Homo sapiens: one gene and its partners. The protein of the gene in region 2 purifies or fractionates together with the protein of the main gene of each other region. This does not show direct contact. Each region holds a gene or a part of one and is shown on either strand. Other genes may lie near its edges.

Region 1 (4,268 bases), on a different chromosome or scaffold from region 2:
TTTTGCTGACATCCTGGAACCGTCCCCTGGGTTGGAGCTCCTGGCTTCCAAGTTTGTTTGTTTGTTTGTTTGTTCTGTTTTTTCTTTTCCTTTTTTGCTAAATGAGATGCCTACTCCAGGATCTTCCTAAAATAAGATTCACAGAAGGTAAATTTCCTAAGTCTTTGTATGTCTGAACACATCTCTACTGTCCATACTTGATTGATAGTTTGGCTGGGTATGAGATTGGTCATTTTCCTTCTGCCTTTTGAAGACCGTGCTCCAATGGTTTCTAACATACGGCGTTGCAATGGAGAAGCATGCCATTTATGTATTGTTTTTTTTGTCCAGATGCTTCAAGGGTCAACTTTTTAGTCCTCTGTTCATTCCCCACATTCATTTGCTCGGCACTTGGTCAGCCATTTCAGTCTCCGTGAATGATGTACTCCAATTCTGGTTATTTCTGTCATCATCTCCTCTATTTTCTCTCTCCCCTCTTTCTGGAAGCCTTGCTGGCAGGCACTTGGAGCACCTGAATGGATAGACCCTGCTGGATAGTGATAGGCACAAAGCCCCTGCTTTGTGGGGTCCCAGGTGTCAGTGCAGGGAAGACTGCTCTGGGGCACAGACCCTTCAGCAGGGGGTGCGAGGCAGGGATTAGATGAGCCTGGGCTCCTGAGGGCAGGGGCTGGGGACCACCGTGAGTGTGCAGACCATTCCTCAAACCTCTGAGCCATGAGCCGCCCCCTTGGCACCTCCAGAGAGCACATGTCAGAGAGCTGCCTAGATCTGGGGTGGGCCATTTGGGGAGTCCTCTGCACCTCGCCACACCCCGCCCTCTTCCTGCTTCTGTTTGACACCTCCACCCCGCCTTTTGGCAGATGACAGACTGGAGAGTAAACAGCAGATGCGTCTGGCAACGCATGCAATGGAGGAAAGAGGACGGAGCACAGGAGGTGGGACAGGGCAAGGCGCAGCTGGGGCACCAGACCAGAGGATGGCCAGGACGTGCCTGTGGCCAGCAGTGCCTGCAGTGTTTGGCAGAGGGAAGGGGACAAGGCAGAGGGGAGGGGAGGGCTCTGCGTGTTGGGCATGGGACTGGACGCCTCTGGCTCCTAAAGAGTCCCACCGGCTATGGAGGGGCGTGCCAGGTAGTGGCTTCCATACCGTTCAGGCAGGTGTAGGTAGGAACTGGACGGTGGCCAAGGGCAGGTCACCCTGCCTGGATCAGCTGTCACATCTGCAGAAAGGGGCAGGAACACCCACATTTGGCTGCTGGCCTCACAGGCAGCTTCTAGAGTCTGGCTGGCCCTTTGTCTATACCACAGGCCGTGTCTAGGGGACAGAACAAGGGGACCCAGGGCATGGCAATGTTCTGAGCAGAGAAGGTGCACAGGGAGCCGTGGGGACAGCGTAAGCCATTGGGCCTTAGGGCAGGGGCCTCGGTCAGCTCCTAAGGCTCCCCCAGGTGCAGTGTCCGTTGCGCCATTTTATTACAAGACGCAGAGCCGCTGGGCCAGCACTGCTAATATCTTTGAACACACCCGCCTCCCTGGTGTGGTTCCCCAGCAGCTGTCCCTGCAGCGGGAGGCCTTGGTCCAGAAGGGTTATGTGGGACATGGGCGCAGGAAGGACAGGTGAGGCTGACAGGCTTGGTCATTCCAGGGACCATGAGGGCTTTCGCTGGCTCAGGTGCCCCTTTCCCCTGCCGTTGCCCCTGTTGGTGCCTGCTAGACCTCCTGTGCACAGAAGGCCTTGGCAGAGGAGAGAGCCAGGCCTGGGGCAGTAAAGGAGAAAGCTTCCCCTCCAGTCCTCTGAGGGCCCCGGACTTAGATGGCTTTCAAATGAGTGTCTGTCTTCAGCAGCTCACCCTCCCAGCTTTTTCAGAAACCAAAGAGTAAATTGCTCACGGCTTCTCTAAGTGGCTCACACACAAAAAACCCGAGTCATTTCAATGGCTGGACCCAGAAAATCGAGCCCTCTTCTCTCCTCCCTGTCTCTGGCCCCCAACTCTGCCTCAGTTGCCCTGGGGTCTCACTGTCCCCTCAAGACACTGCCCCTGCAGGCGCAGGCAGAGAGGCCTTTGTTCCCCTCAGCTGTGTCCCCTCAGCTGTGTAGAGAGGATGCTGCCGTCGGACACGTGGTAACTGAGCCTGCTGCCACCCCCACCCGTGATGGTCAGTAGGTCGCGTGCCATCTGGGGCTACTAGAGCCGGCCCACTGTGCATACTACATGTGCCTGCTGGGTGCTCTGGGCTCTTCTCGCACTCCTGCACTGGCAACCGCTTATCTTTTTGAGCTGGGTCTTAAAGGTGGAGAGGTCTGACCAAGGGGCGGTCACTCACACTGGCATTCCAGTGAAGGGCATGGCCCATGCAGAGACCAGGGGTGATATACCCGTGTCCTCCTACCTGCAGACCGTGACGGTGCTGGGGAGGGGAGGGGGCACCAGGCCACATCGGGAGGGCAGCAGGTAGACGCTCCAGCCCCTCCACGGCAGAGGCCCTGAGCTTTGCAGGGGTGAGGAGGCTGTCATTCAGAAACGTCGCTGCCAGGGAGAAGGGACTTAGAGAAGGGAGCCTTGTGGCTGTGGCCCATGGCTGCCCTCACCACCAGGCTCCTGCCTTCAGGTGGCCAGGGGCCATCTGAACGCCCAGGGGACCTGGGTATGGGGTTGGTGTAGACCATGTCTTGGCCCTTCCCAAGGTGCCGGCTTCACCTCCATCCCTCTGTGCTCTGGTGCTGACCTGGCATTTGCAGTTATGTGCCCTAGTGGCAGCCGCTCGAGCTTGGCTGCCAAGACCCACGGTGTGGTCAGACCACTGTGTGCGGCTGAGGAATGAGTTCCTCCCAGGAGGGGAAAGCCCTCGGGTCAATCGGGGCCCTCGTGCCCACCCGTCACTGCAGGCCAGGATCGTGGCAGGTGGCAACCCCAGCTTTGAGTGCTGCGTCTTCTGGGGCTGCAGCCGCCCACTGTGAGCAGGAGGGTGAGGGCAGGTAGAGTCTGTCCTGCCATGAAGCTGGAGGCTTTGACAGCAGGGGCGGACAGAACTGAGCAGAAACACTTCACAGCCTGGCCACGAGCTCCCCGCTTTGTGCTCCCTCCCTCGCATTTCCCCGTGTTCTGCACCCCCAGAGCTGAGGAGCCAGGGCCCTTGTCCAGGAACAGGCTGGATCGAGGCCTGGTGCCTGCATGCATTCCCAGGTGGGAGCCAGGCAGGTGACCCGGACCCTCCACCAGCCCAGAAGCAGCCCTTCCACCGAGGGGCCTCACACCACTTCTGCCTGCTCCCTCAGTCATTAGGCCCAGCGCTGGCTAGGTGGCTCCAGACATGACCAGCAGGCTCTAAGGCTCATCAGCGTCTTCTGGAGCCTGCACGATACACACACAGGCACAGGCTACACCATGGGAGACCCCATCTGCAGGGTGCCAAGCCCTTGCATGCTTGGGCCTCTGACGGGATCTGTCCCCGCTGCTAACCAGGCACAGGGCAGCTTGCTCTGCAGGTCTTCCAGTCAGCTAGCACAGACCCTGGCCAGTGTCATGACTCTGTGGCCCTGGGCAAGTCACACACCCTCTCTGGGCCATGGGCAGAGGAGCTCATGATGGAGGCATGCCTTGGGCTTCAGGGGATGGTCCCTGAATGGGTGTGGGGCTGGGGCTGAAGGACCCGCCTGTGGGCTGGGGCGCTGAAAATGGGAGAGGAACTGAGCCATTTGTGTTTCCCAGATGGGGCCTGCTGCACTGTGCACAGCGTGTCCTTGCCCTCAGAGTCACCCTTGGGGCCAGAGTCCTTGTGGCTGTAACTCACAGGGTCATTGGCTGGGGCTAGGAGGGCAAGCTTCTCTGTTGGTGGACACATCACACTGTGGTTTTTTGTGTTCAGAAGAAACCTGCCACACTGGCCTGTCTCCATCCATTTGGTCACGGCCCCACAGGAGTGGGGAGCGGAGGTCCATGCGGCCCTATGCCTCCCCTGGACACAGGGTCAGCTAGGAAGGATATGGATAGCCTCTTCTGAGCAGTCAGGGCCTCGTGAGCCTGAGGCAGGAGACAGAAGCCTGCCCCGGCCGCCTCGGGCCCTTACTCCCTGGCCCTTGGTCATTATTGTTTCTAAAACGTTTGTCTCACCTGCTACCTGAAGAAGGTCCCGCCCTCTGGCCCTTGAGGCCCCGAGTGCCCAGGAGCTGCTGCCATCAGCATGGATGGGTGGTACCAGGCAGGCTGTGGGTGCAGGGTGCTTGGGGAGGGCCAGGTGTGCCTTGGGACGTGTGAAGTGGGAGCCTGG
Region 2 (3,500 bases):
ACAAAGAATATGCATGAAATGCTCTCACACTGATAGAAGGGTCTTCATAAATATATAAAGTTCCTTAATTGTTAATACCATATACAAGAAGACACTAAAAGAATGAAAGCATAAAACAGAATCACTGCAAATGTCATAAAACTCATTGGAGAATAATAGTAATATCTAGCATCTTTTGAGAGTAGGTAGACTTAGATATATGTATGAATGTCTCTGTCTCTTTTTTTTTTTTTTTTAAAGAGACGGGGTCTTGTTCTGTTACCCAGGCTGGAGTGCAGTGGTGTGATCATAGCTCACTACTAGGCCTTGAACTCCTGGGCTCAAGTGATTCTCCTGCCTCAGCCTCCTGAGTAGCTAGGACTATAGGCATGCACCACCATGCCCAGCTAATTTTTCTTTTTTCTTTCTTTCTTTTTTTTTTCTTTCTTTTTTTTTTTTAAATGATGGGGTCTTGCTATGTTGCCTAGGCTGGTCTCAGACTCCTGGCCTCAAGTGATCCTCCTACCTTGGCCTCCCAAAGTGTTGGGATACATGTGTGAGCCACTAGGCCTGTCCGTATGTATCTCTTAAAGGCAGAAAAGCAAAGTGAAAAGTCTCCACTAAGAAACGGCATAGGCTGGGTGCGGTGGCTCATGCCTGTAATCCCAGCATTTTGGGAGGCTGAGGCGGGCGGATCACTTCAGGTCAGGAGCTCGAGACCAGCCTGGCTAACATGGTGAAACCCGGTCTCCACTAAAAATACAAAAAATTAGCCAGGCATGGTGGTACATGCCTGTAATTCCAGCTACTCAGGAGGTTGAGGCACAAGAATCACTTGAGCCCGGGAGGCAGAGATTGCAGTGGGGTGAGATCGCGACACTGCCCTCCAGCCTGGGGGACAGAGTGAGACTCTGTCTCACAAAAAAAAAAAAAAAAAAAAATGGTATAGATTCTGTTGTTAATCTACTCATACGGCAACAAATCCCTGTATCCAAAAGTTAGAAACTGAAGTGCTGATATCACTGGCAGGACAACTGACTAGATTATAAAGCAAGAACTCCACAGAAGTACCCGATACTGGAAAGGTGTTTTTAAAAGATGCTGAATAAAGAGCACCTTCAAGAGTTTATCAAAAGTGATACATGCTATCCTGGCTGGGCGTGGTGGCTCAAGCCTGTAATCCCAGCACTTTGGGAGGCTGAGGAAGGTGGATCACCTGAGGTCAGGCGTTCCAGACCAGTCTGGCCAACATGGTGAAACCCCATCTCTACTAAAAATACAAAAATTAGCTGGGTGTGGTGGTGCATGCCTGTAGTCCCAGCTACTAGGGAGGCCGAGGTAGGAGAATCGCTTGAACCCGAGAGGCAGAGGTTTGCAGTGAGCCGAGATCGCACCACTGCACTCTAGCCTGGGCGATAGAGCAAGACTCCATCTCAAAAAAAAAAAAAAAAAAAAAAGTGATAAAGTGATACATGCTATAACATGATGAACCTTGAAAATATGCTTAGTCAAAGAGGCCAGTCACAAGAGACTACATATTGGCTATCTAGGGCTGGAGGGTGAGATGGGGGTAGGGGTGGTGCAGCTGCTGCTGCTTGGGAGAAAATGGGGAGCAATTACTAAGAGTATAGATTTTCTTTCTGGGCTGATGAAAATGTTCTAAAAGTGATTGTCACGATAGTTGCTTACTCACACATGTTTCAGATGTGTTCTACTGGACGGTTGCCTCAGGGGAACAACTATCCTGCAAGGAGGTGCCCCAGTACCTTAAGCTTTTCCAGTATGAGAGTAGCTTTAAGACAAGTTCAGGCCAGGCGCAGTGGCTCACACCTGTAATCCCAGCACTTTGGGAGGCTAAGGCAGGCGAATCACTTGAGGTCAGGAGTTCGAGACCAACCTGGCCAACATGGTGAAACCCCATCTCTACTAAAAATACAAAAATAAGCTGGGTGTGGTGGTGTGCGCTTGTAGTCCCAGCCACTCGGCAGGCTGAGACACAAGAATCGCTTGAACCCGGGAGGTGGAGATTGCAGTGAGCTGAGATCGTGCCATTGCACTCCAGCCTCAGCGACAGTGCGAGACCCTGTCTAAAAAAAGAAAAAAGAAAGTTCAGTGGTTGATGGGTTGGACGTGGATCTGATGGATCTGATATAGCAGGCCTCCATAAAACTCAGAATTCACATGTGACCGTTGGCTCTGGGGCACTGTGAAAGAAAAATGTTCACAACTCTACCTAACAATATTTAAAGATCTTGAAGCAGCAACCAGGAACTGTTTGATTTTATACATCAACATGAAAGAAGCCACTGAAGGGAGGTAGGAGACTGAGGAGATGTTGGTTAAAGGACACAACATTTCAGTTAGATGGGAAGAATATGAAGATACATGAAAATACTTTGTAAATTTTAACGACTATATAAATGTTAGTTATCAACATTATCCTGTCCCAGTTTCCAGGTACCTACATCAATTATATCACCTTAATAAAAATATTAAGTGTAATATTATCTTAATCATTTTTCATGTGCAAATCATATATTTAAACATCTTTATAGTCTATTAGGATAAGACAGTTGTTCAGGCACCATGTTAGGCACATGCCAATGGCTTATTATTAGATTCTAATTTCTGTCTTTTCTCTTTTTCTATGGTACTTTGGAGGCATAAGAAAACTAAAGTTTATTTCAGTTGGATTAGATGTTGACAGCCATTATTATTCTATATTTAGTTATATAAATACTTTTCTGTTCTTGAAAGCTAAGTTGAATAATTAAATTATAGCCTTTCCCCCAAACAAAAATCCTTTACCTTAACAGTTATATTTTTTGGGCCAGTTAAATTTTAATTACCAAGGAAGTCACAATGTCTCCCATCTCTTTTGGGGTTAGATACCAGAATATAACAACTCAAAATCAAACACTCCAGCATTTTTTTTTCTTTTCTTTTGAGACTCAGGGTCTTGTTCTGTCACCAGGCTGGAGTACAGTGGCACAATCCTGGCTCACTGCAGCCTCAACCTCCTGGGCTCAAGTGATCCTCCCACCTCAGCCTCCTAAGTAGCTGGGATCACGGGCACGCACCACCATACCCAGATAATTTTTATAATTTTTCATAGAGACAGGATCTCATCATGTTGCCCAGGCTGGTCTCAAATTCTTGAGCTCAAGTGATCCTCCTGCCTAGGCTTCCCAAAGTGCTGGGATTAGAGAGGCATGAGCACCACACCTGGCCCAGCCTTGCTGCTTCTAAAGCAGCACTGATCCTTAATATTGTGGTAATTAATTTAAACTATTAAGTGGTTCTACAAGTCTTCTCTCTGGCTGGGTATGGTGGCTCACGCCTGTAATCCCAACACTTTGGGAGGCAGAGGTGGGCAGGTCACTTGAGATCAGGAGTTCAGGACCAGACTGGTCAATATGGTGAAACTCCATTTCTACTGAATATACAAAAATTAGCTGGACATGGTGGCGCATGCTTGTAGTCCCAGCTACTCGGGAGGCTGAGGAAGAATCACTTGAACC
Region 3 (3,638 bases), on a different chromosome or scaffold from region 2:
GCCGCCCGGGGGCACCACGCCCTCTCCCAGGGACCCCTCGCTGGCTGACCCCTCCCCCCCGCCCCCTCACCCGCTGACCTCTCCCATCCCTGACTCCTTACTCGATGACCCCTCACCTGCTGACTCCTCCCTGGCCGCAGGCAGCGGGCGGAGCTGGAAGAGCTGAGGCAGCAGCTGGAGGAGAGCAGCTCTGCACTGACCCGAGCCCTGAGGGCTGAGTTTGAGAAGGGCAGGGAGGAGCAGGAGCGCCGGCACCAGGTCTACCACCGGAGGGCTGTGCTGGGCCTGGCCAGGGGGCTGCACGGGGTGGGACTGACTGGCCTCTTATGTCCGCCCCCCAGATGGAGCTGAATACCCTGAAGCAGCAGCTGGAGCTGGAGAGGCAGGCGTGGGAGGCCGGCCGCACCAGGAAGGAGGTGGGGGCCTGGGCACCCAGGTGGGCAGGGGTTGGGGGCTGCCCTGCGTGGGCAGGAGTTGGGGGCTGCCCCAGGTGGGTTTTGCTGCTGCTGTGGCATCCTGGGGGCTCGTTTCTGGGAGTCACATCTGGCTGCTTGGGGTTGTTGTCTGAACTGACGCTGAGTGTGTTGCTTTCAGCCCATCTTTTGCGTGGGCTCTGGAAGGATCAAGGGTGCCTGGAGCGCATCCTCTGTGGTCCGAGAACAGGCGTTGCCCCTCTCGCTAGGGGCTGCTACACCCCTGCGCCCCACGACCAGCCCACTGACACTCAGATGTACCGAGAGGGACACGCACAACAGGGGCTCCCCCCTTAGCCTCTGGGGCCTTCTGTGGGGGGTGGACTCTGCCACGGTGACAGTCCCACACACATTCTCACCACCCATGCCCGCCGCGAGGCTACAGTCCAGGCTGACCGTGCCCGTCACCTGGTTTCACACCCTGGTGGGCTGGGATGTCACCGAGCAGCCAGGCAGGCTTTGGCAGTGGATGCCTCTGGGCCCAGTAGCATGCTCCCGACGTAGCCCTGTGGGGCCCAGGGCTGGACAGATGAAACTCTGGGAGTTTTCAGAGGCTTCCAGGAGGCTGCCAGCTTAGGCTCTGAATGCCTGGGCTTGGGGGCCCAGGCCCCGCCCTCAGCAACACGCAAGTCCAACTTTCCCATCCCATCTGGTAGCAGAAGGTGGCCTCAGGTTGTCATGGGCTGTGGGTCTCTGAGGGAGGGGACCGTGGGCTGTGCATCATGACGATCTCTGGTACGCCTATGCCCACACTGGGTCCTGACAACAGGACGTAGCGCACCCCTGGACAGGGGTCTGGAGAGGGGGAAGGCCCCTTGCTCCCCTGTGGCTCAGAGCCTGGAGCCCCCCAGGACCCCCTGAGGCTGGCCCTGGCCCCGCGGGCCGGCTCCGGGTGGCAACCCCCAGGCAGCGCATGTCCCCCCAGGAGGCGTGGCTGCTGAACCGGGAACAGGAGCTGAGGGAAGAAATCCGGAAAGGCCGGGACAAGGAGATTGAGCTGGTCATTCACCGGCTGGAGGCCGACATGGCGCTGGCCAAGGAGGAGAGTGAGAAGGCTGCCGAGAGCCGGTAAGGACCCGCCATGGCTGGGTCACCAGCTGGGGAGGCCCACGAGCTGAGGCGCAAGGACCCGTGTGTGACTGGGCTGGAGTGACCCTGCCCTCCCCCCACCTCCAGCATCAAGCGCTTACGGGACAAGTACGAGGCCGAGCTCTCCGAGCTGGAGCAGTCGGAGCGGAAGCTTCAGGAGCGGTGCTCGGAGCTGAAGGGCCAGCTTGGGGAGGCCGAGGGCGAGAATCTGCGTCTGCAGGGCCTTGTGCGGCAGAAGGAGCGGGCGCTGGAGGATGCGCAGGCGGTGAGTGGGCGGGTGTCAGGTGGGCAGTGGGCACCCACAGGCCCCTCCTGCATGCACGCAGCCAGTCGCTGGCAGCCGGCTCACTGCCTTCTGTGCCCACCCAGGTGAACGAGCAGCTTTCTAGCGAGCGCAGCAACCTGGCCCAGGTGATCCGCCAGGAGTTCGAGGACCGGCTGGCAGCCTCTGAGGAGGAGACGCGGCAGGCCAAGGCCGAGCTGGCCACGCTGCAGGCCCGCCAGCAGCTGGAGCTGGAGGAGGTGCACCGGAGGTGGGCGGCGGGGGCTGCAGGGCTGGAGACGGAGGCGGGGCAGGGGAGCGGGCAGGACCTCTGCAGCTCCAAGCCCCAGGAGGCTGTGGCTGAGGAAGGCCAGGAGATGCAGAGACAGGGCCCTGTAGACAGAGGCTGGTGTGGGTTCCATGTTTGGGGCCCAGGAGACCTAGATCTGTTTTCCTCCCTGGTGCTTAGTCTAGGGTGTCGGCCATCCCTGTTGGGGCACCCGAGTGGGTCGGGTCTGGGCCTGGCGAGTTCTCCAGGGAGTCAGCTCCCGGGGCCCTGGGCTGGGTGGACAGGCGCTGAAAGAGCTGGGGCACTGTAAGGTTCCCAGCGAGCTCCCTCCACGGGGGTCCTGCATCCTTCCTGTGCCATCTGCTGCCACAGGCTGAGAGGTGGGTGTGGGCGAGGTGTCCCACCCCATCTGGGTACCAGGCCTCCCCAGGTGTGGCCAGGGTCATACTCCAGTGGCCTGTGTTGGGTCCTGACTCACAGCAGGTGGGTTGCCTGGACAGCTGTCTGGGCCAGCCACAGGAGTCGTGGTCAGCAGGGCTGGGACCAGGCTGACCAGGCGGCTGCCCCGTGCACCCTGTGCACTGCAGGCCACTCTGGGGACATGGGGCGGGGGCCACACTGAAGCCTACCATGTACTACCCACAGGGTGAAGACAGCCCTCGCGAGGAAGGAGGAGGCCGTGAGCAGCCTCCGGACACAACATGAGGTGAGTCCCTGTGGCCAGCCCTGCTGGACCTCGGGGCTGGGAGCAGGCCTGACCCTGTGGGTGTGCTGCAGGCTGCGGTGAAGCGGGCCGACCACCTGGAGGAGCTGCTGGAGCAGCACAGGAGGCCCACGCCAAGTACCAAGTGACCAGGGATGCCGGGAACACTGTCGAAGAACGGAAGGCAGAGGACAGAGGCTGGACGTGGGCCCAGAGGCCCACAGGGACGCCCACCTGCCCCCCACAGAGGCTGGTGGTTGAGATGCCCACGGCTAAGCACCTGTGGCTGCATTTTAACAGTAAAGGAGGCCGTTGTTTTCAGCGCCTTGAGTGACTGCCTTGTCTTCTCTCCTGGGCTAGAGGCTGCCCAAGACCCCCAGAGCAGCCAGGCGTGGGTTTGGCTCTCTTCCTCCCACTCCCCTCCGCAGCCTGAGCAGGCTGACCAGGAAATCACGAAGCTTGGCCATCAGCCCCCCAGCTAGCAGCCCTCAACACTCAGCCAGCAGCCCCCAGCACTCAGCCAGCAGCCCCCCTGCACTCAGCCCTCAGCTCCCCAGCATTCAACCCAACCCCCAAGTTCCTGTTCCCTGCCTTGCCCTGGACCCTGGAAGTCCCAAGCACAGGGAATTCCCTACCCCGTTCCTGGCCAGGCGCAGGAGGAACTCAGCAGAACTCACCCCCTGGGAGGAGCTCCGAGGGCCCCGCCGTGGCCCTGCAGGTGCTGGAAGCCCATGGCTGCCAGCGTGCTCCTATGGCTGGAGAGACTCCAGAGGGACAGGAAGCCCTACCCTCCCCGCTGTCAAGGTGTGACAGTCTGGAGCT
Region 4 (4,268 bases), on a different chromosome or scaffold from region 2:
TGCTAACTCTGGGTCCCCACCCCTGTCCTCCCAGAGTCACTCTGATCCTGCTCATCACACCAGGACATGGAGTCTCTACATAACCACAGGATTCCCCTAGAGCCTGCTGTTGCCACAGTGACCCTGATGCTGGGCTGTTACCCACTTAGCCTCCCTTACCTCTTCTGTCTGCTTCCACCACTTCTATATCCCTGTTTGGAAAAAGGATGGGTGCCTGAGCCTGTGCCCAGTTGGGTGTCCACTCACAACCCAAAGCAGAGCCTGGCACTGCCCACTCTGACCAAGGGCCTTCTCTCCCTGATCTCACTGGCGTCTGCCCTATTTACCCATCACTGGGTTTGTGGGTTGCGCCGAAAACACAGCAGCAGCAATAAACAGAAAATGAGGGCAGAGCCCAGTGTGTCACAGTTCTGGGAGGCAGATCGGGATGGGATACCCGTGTGGCTTGTCCAATGATCTTCATGTTAAGAGGCAGTCTCTGTGAATGAACTTTCTCTTCAGGCCACAAGAAGCCCTAACCCAAGCGGAGGCGAAAGGTAGCAATCTCCATGGGCTCCAAATAGACGTCAGTGCTGTTGGACGGGGAGGCCAGAGGGTACAGTAACGTCAAGGAGGTTGGCTGAAGGAATACCACATCCAGGCCATGGAAAAGGCTGCCCAGGGCTACCTGTGGAGAGCAGAGAAGGGGCAGGGTTGTGCTAGGTGCCGAGACACTAAAGAATGTGGCTGTTCATCTACAATTTGGTACCTCTTTAAGAATCTCAGCCAGGGGCAGTGGCTCACACCTGTAATCCCAGCACTTTGGGAGGCCAAGGCGGGTGGATCACCTGAGGTCAGGAGTTCGAGACCAGCCTGGCCAACATGGCGAAACCCCGTCTCTACTAACAATATAAAAATTAGCTGGGCGTGGGGGCAGGCGCCTGTAATCCCAGCTACTCGGGAGGCTGAGGCAGGAGGATCACTTGAACCAGGAGGCGGGGGTTGCAGTGAGCTGCGATCACGCCACTGCACTCCAGTTCCGGCTGGCCCCTCTCAGCAACACCATGCCTTCTTACACATGAGTGTGCATCCAGTCTCACGGGCTTGCTGAGATTTGCTCAACCCTAAAGCCTGCCTACAGATCTCTGGGTAAGAACCGTTCCACTGAGCTGTGAGCTCTGTGAAAACAGTGACCATGTCTTGGTTCACTTCTGAAACACTGGAGCCCAGCAGAGGACCTGGCACCCGGGGACATTTATCAGTGCCGGCTGATATGAGCTTACAAAGTAACAACAGGATGGGTTCTGGTTTTCTATTTCTGGTGTTTTCCACTTTGCTTGATAGAGGTCCCTGCTCAGGGAACAAAAGTTCTCAAGCGATCTACCTTGTCTGGAACTCCCCCTGCCAGGCCTCCGGAGCTCTGAAAACATGTCTACAGCTTCCCCCCTTCTCTCCAGAAAGCCCTGGAGTGACACTTTCTTCTCCCAGCCTGTCACCGAATCTCAGCCCAGTCTTACCAAGCTCATGCCTGCCATTCCTAGGTGCTCTGTTTCCCCACCCTACTCACCTTGCCTTGGCTTGTGGTGCAGTTGAAGCCCAAGTTCTTGGCCTCCAGGCCGCAGTCAAAACCCTTGCGGTGTAAGATGAGTGCGGTCTCCGCCGAGGGTAGGGTGTCCTCCTGGATGACAGACAGTGCCCAGGGAAGTGGGCGCAGGGCTTTCAGAGATCGGAGATGCAGCAGCGCCTCTGCCCAGAGGCAGTGCTGGCACAGGGAGGCGTGTGGGTAAGGAAAGGCCAAAACCTGGTCCTGGAGGTTTGGAGCCGAATACCTGCTAAGGGGTCTGGACCTCATCCTGGAGGCTAAGGAAGGAGCTGAGCAGGGAGGGACACCATCAGAACTCTGCTCTCAGCATGTCACGCTGAGGGACACTCACCTCAGCCTGGAGCGTACGTAGGTTGAGCAGGTGGAAGTCACAGGGCAGTGAGGAAGCCAGAGGATGAAATGAGCGCAGACCAGGGCCTGGGAGCTGCATCCTGGCTACAGGCAGAGCGAGCGCCGGGGCGTTCAGGTACATGGAGGTCAGGTGGCTGAGGAGGGATGGGTAGCTGGTAGAGTGGCTATCTTGGACCTGCAAAATTGACCCGAGATATTGGTGAGGGACCAAAGCCAGGCTGAGGGGAGAGGACGAGGCAGGATAAAAGCACACCCAGGTCAGTTGTTTTGGAAAGACCTTTCCTGGTGTGCCTGGACTCAAGGGCACGCCTGGCTCCAGGCGAGGTTCCGCTAACCCTTCAAGTGTGGACATTTGCCGTCTCCCCTAACGCAGAGGGCTACTTCACTAAGCTGTTTCTTCTCTACTTTTTAGTTCCTTGCTCACATAACACTATCATGAGCAACCCACTCCCATCAGCCATGTCTCCCCTCACACATGGATCCACAGTGCAGGGAGGATGGCAGCCAGGCAGACGCAGGCCTCACCATGGAGCACGGACCTCCAATCCAGAGTGCTCTGGGTAATCTGCGGCTTCACGAGCGATGCCACATCCACAGTGCCAGCCTGGCTCTCAGGCCCAGCGCGGCCGGGGCTCTGCCAGCAGGGCTACTCCTTAGCAGCTCACCTGGACGTCAGACTCACAGGCCTGGGCTGAATATTCTGGACTTCTGTCCCTGGCATCCCCCTTCTTCCAAGCGCCCAGCATCTCTCACTTCCCTCTGCATTCCCAGGTAATGCTAAACCCTCTTCCGTCGCACCTGGGCAGTGTCCTCATAGCCACCGGCAACTTCTCCAGCCTCTGGCCTAGTTCAAGCAGCCAGCATGTCCTGCCTGAACAGCCTCCCGCTGTCACCCTCCTCCAGTCTCCCTTCCCACAGATCCAACCTGCTCCGTACTGTCAGCGTGACATGCTGAGACCAGAGTTCTGACGGTGTCCCTCCTTGCTCAGCTCTTTCCTTAGCCTGGACCTTTCCTAGCCAGGATAAAGTCCAGATCCCTTAGCAGGCACTCAAGGTGCTCTGCCGTCTGCCCTGATCTCCCCCTAGCACTCTAGCCCAGCACCAGCCAAGAGGGCATTCTGCAAGGATGGAAATATCCGACACCACATGGTCTAATACGGCAGCCACTTAGCCACTTGAGTACTTGAAGTGTGGTCAGTAGGAATAAGAAAGCAAATTTTTTACTTGATTTAGTTGTAATTTAAATAGCCATATAGGGCTACTGGCCACCGTACTGGATAGCATAGCTCCAGCATAACTAAGGAACTCACTGCTATTCCCCAGCCTGTTGTCTTTCCTGCCTCCTATCCTGTGCCCTGGTTCATATCTTCAAATCACACCCCATTCATCAAAGCCACACCTGGGTGACACCTCCTTGACCTCGATCTCCTTAGCCCACATTATTACCTTGCTCCTCAGGATCAGTGAGACAAAGCCCTTTCTACCTTGCATTTTTACACACATGGCTTCTCTGCCACCCCTACTCACGAGTAAACTCCTGGGAGAGTCAGCACTGTCTGCACTTATGTCCCTCTGGGTCCTCACAGTAAAGCAGGTGCTCAATATCTATCTGATGCACGAGTGACTGAGTGGCGGGCTCTGTCACCTGGGCTCTGGCGCAGCTACACCTTGCTCGTACTAGTTCCCCGCTCCCAGAGCCGACCCTTACCTCTCGGTTACCGCTCCTGCTGCTGTGAAAGATCAAGCCCCTAAACATGGCTGCCAGTTTGGAGAAAAAGTCAGGCTGGTGGGGCAAAGAAAGCCATGAGATGAGCGGGGTTGGAGCACAGGCTTAGAGAATGCTGGGACAGGGCAGAGGAGGGCAGCACAGAGGAAAGTGGGAGACGAACATGAGGGGCACAGGTGACAGAGCGCTGCTGGGAGAGGAAGGTGCCAGGCTGCGTGAGATGGGACACAAAACGCCAGACTGCCTCCCCCCACCCCAGGAATTCAGCCCTACTCTCTCTCTCTTGCCCACCTCCAACTACGCTCCTCGAGCCCTAGGCTGGACCCCCCGGCCACCCCCAGGGACTAGCCAGACCTGGCTCCCTGGGCGTCAGCCCCAGATGTTACCTCACTGCCCACGGTTCGCCGCTCTAGCAGGAGGCGGAAACGGTTGCAGGTTCTCTTGTTGTCCTTGAGCCCTTGGCCTAGGCCCCGGTTGTCATCCTGCATCAGCCGCCGGTCCAAGATCACCTCCAGCTGGCCTGGGGAAGCAAACAGTGAGTGCTGGCCCGCCCCCACCCCCAAGCAGGCACTGACCTTTCAAAGGAGAATCCCAAGCCACAGGCCCTGA

The links. The genes of interacting proteins can lie anywhere in the genome.
Region 1: the proteins of TMEM59 (region 2) and HS6ST1 purify together in Homo sapiens (affinity purification with mass spectrometry; one large-scale study listed by BioGRID and IntAct). This does not show direct contact.
Region 3: the proteins of TMEM59 (region 2) and CEP131 purify together in Homo sapiens (co-immunoprecipitation; 2 studies listed by BioGRID and IntAct, with this or other methods). This does not show direct contact.
Region 4: the proteins of TMEM59 (region 2) and MAN2A2 purify together in Homo sapiens (affinity purification with mass spectrometry; one large-scale study listed by BioGRID and IntAct). This does not show direct contact.

What each region holds. Positions count from the first base shown.
Region 1 is NC_000002.12:128,270,369-128,274,636, reverse strand, and holds part of HS6ST1 (heparan-sulfate 6-O-sulfotransferase 1), read left to right. Parts: intron 1-4,268. UniProt on the Homo sapiens protein: 6-O-sulfation enzyme which catalyzes the transfer of sulfate from 3'-phosphoadenosine 5'-phosphosulfate (PAPS) to position 6 of the N-sulfoglucosamine residue (GlcNS) of heparan sulfate.
Region 2 is NC_000001.11:54,032,705-54,036,204, forward strand, and holds part of TMEM59 (transmembrane protein 59 isoform 2 precursor), read right to left. Parts: intron 1-3,500.
Region 3 is NC_000017.11:81,189,096-81,192,733, reverse strand, and holds the end of CEP131 (centrosomal protein of 131 kDa), read left to right. Parts: intron 1-140; coding exon 141-258; intron 259-341; coding exon 342-416; intron 417-1,383; coding exon of another isoform or gene 1,384-1,398; coding exon 1,399-1,541; intron 1,542-1,649; coding exon 1,650-1,827; intron 1,828-1,931; coding exon 1,932-2,095; intron 2,096-2,758; coding exon 2,759-2,819; coding exon of another isoform or gene 2,820-2,890; coding exon 2,891-2,965; 3' UTR 2,966-3,138; downstream 3,139-3,638. UniProt on the Homo sapiens protein: Component of centriolar satellites contributing to the building of a complex and dynamic network required to regulate cilia/flagellum formation.
Region 4 is NC_000015.10:90,916,034-90,920,301, reverse strand, and holds part of MAN2A2 (alpha-mannosidase 2x), read right to left. Parts: intron 4,180-4,268; coding exon 4,046-4,179; intron 3,717-4,045; coding exon of another isoform or gene 3,642-3,716; intron 2,109-3,641; coding exon 1,914-2,108; intron 1,658-1,913; coding exon 1,547-1,657; intron 668-1,546; coding exon 515-667; 3' UTR 1-514.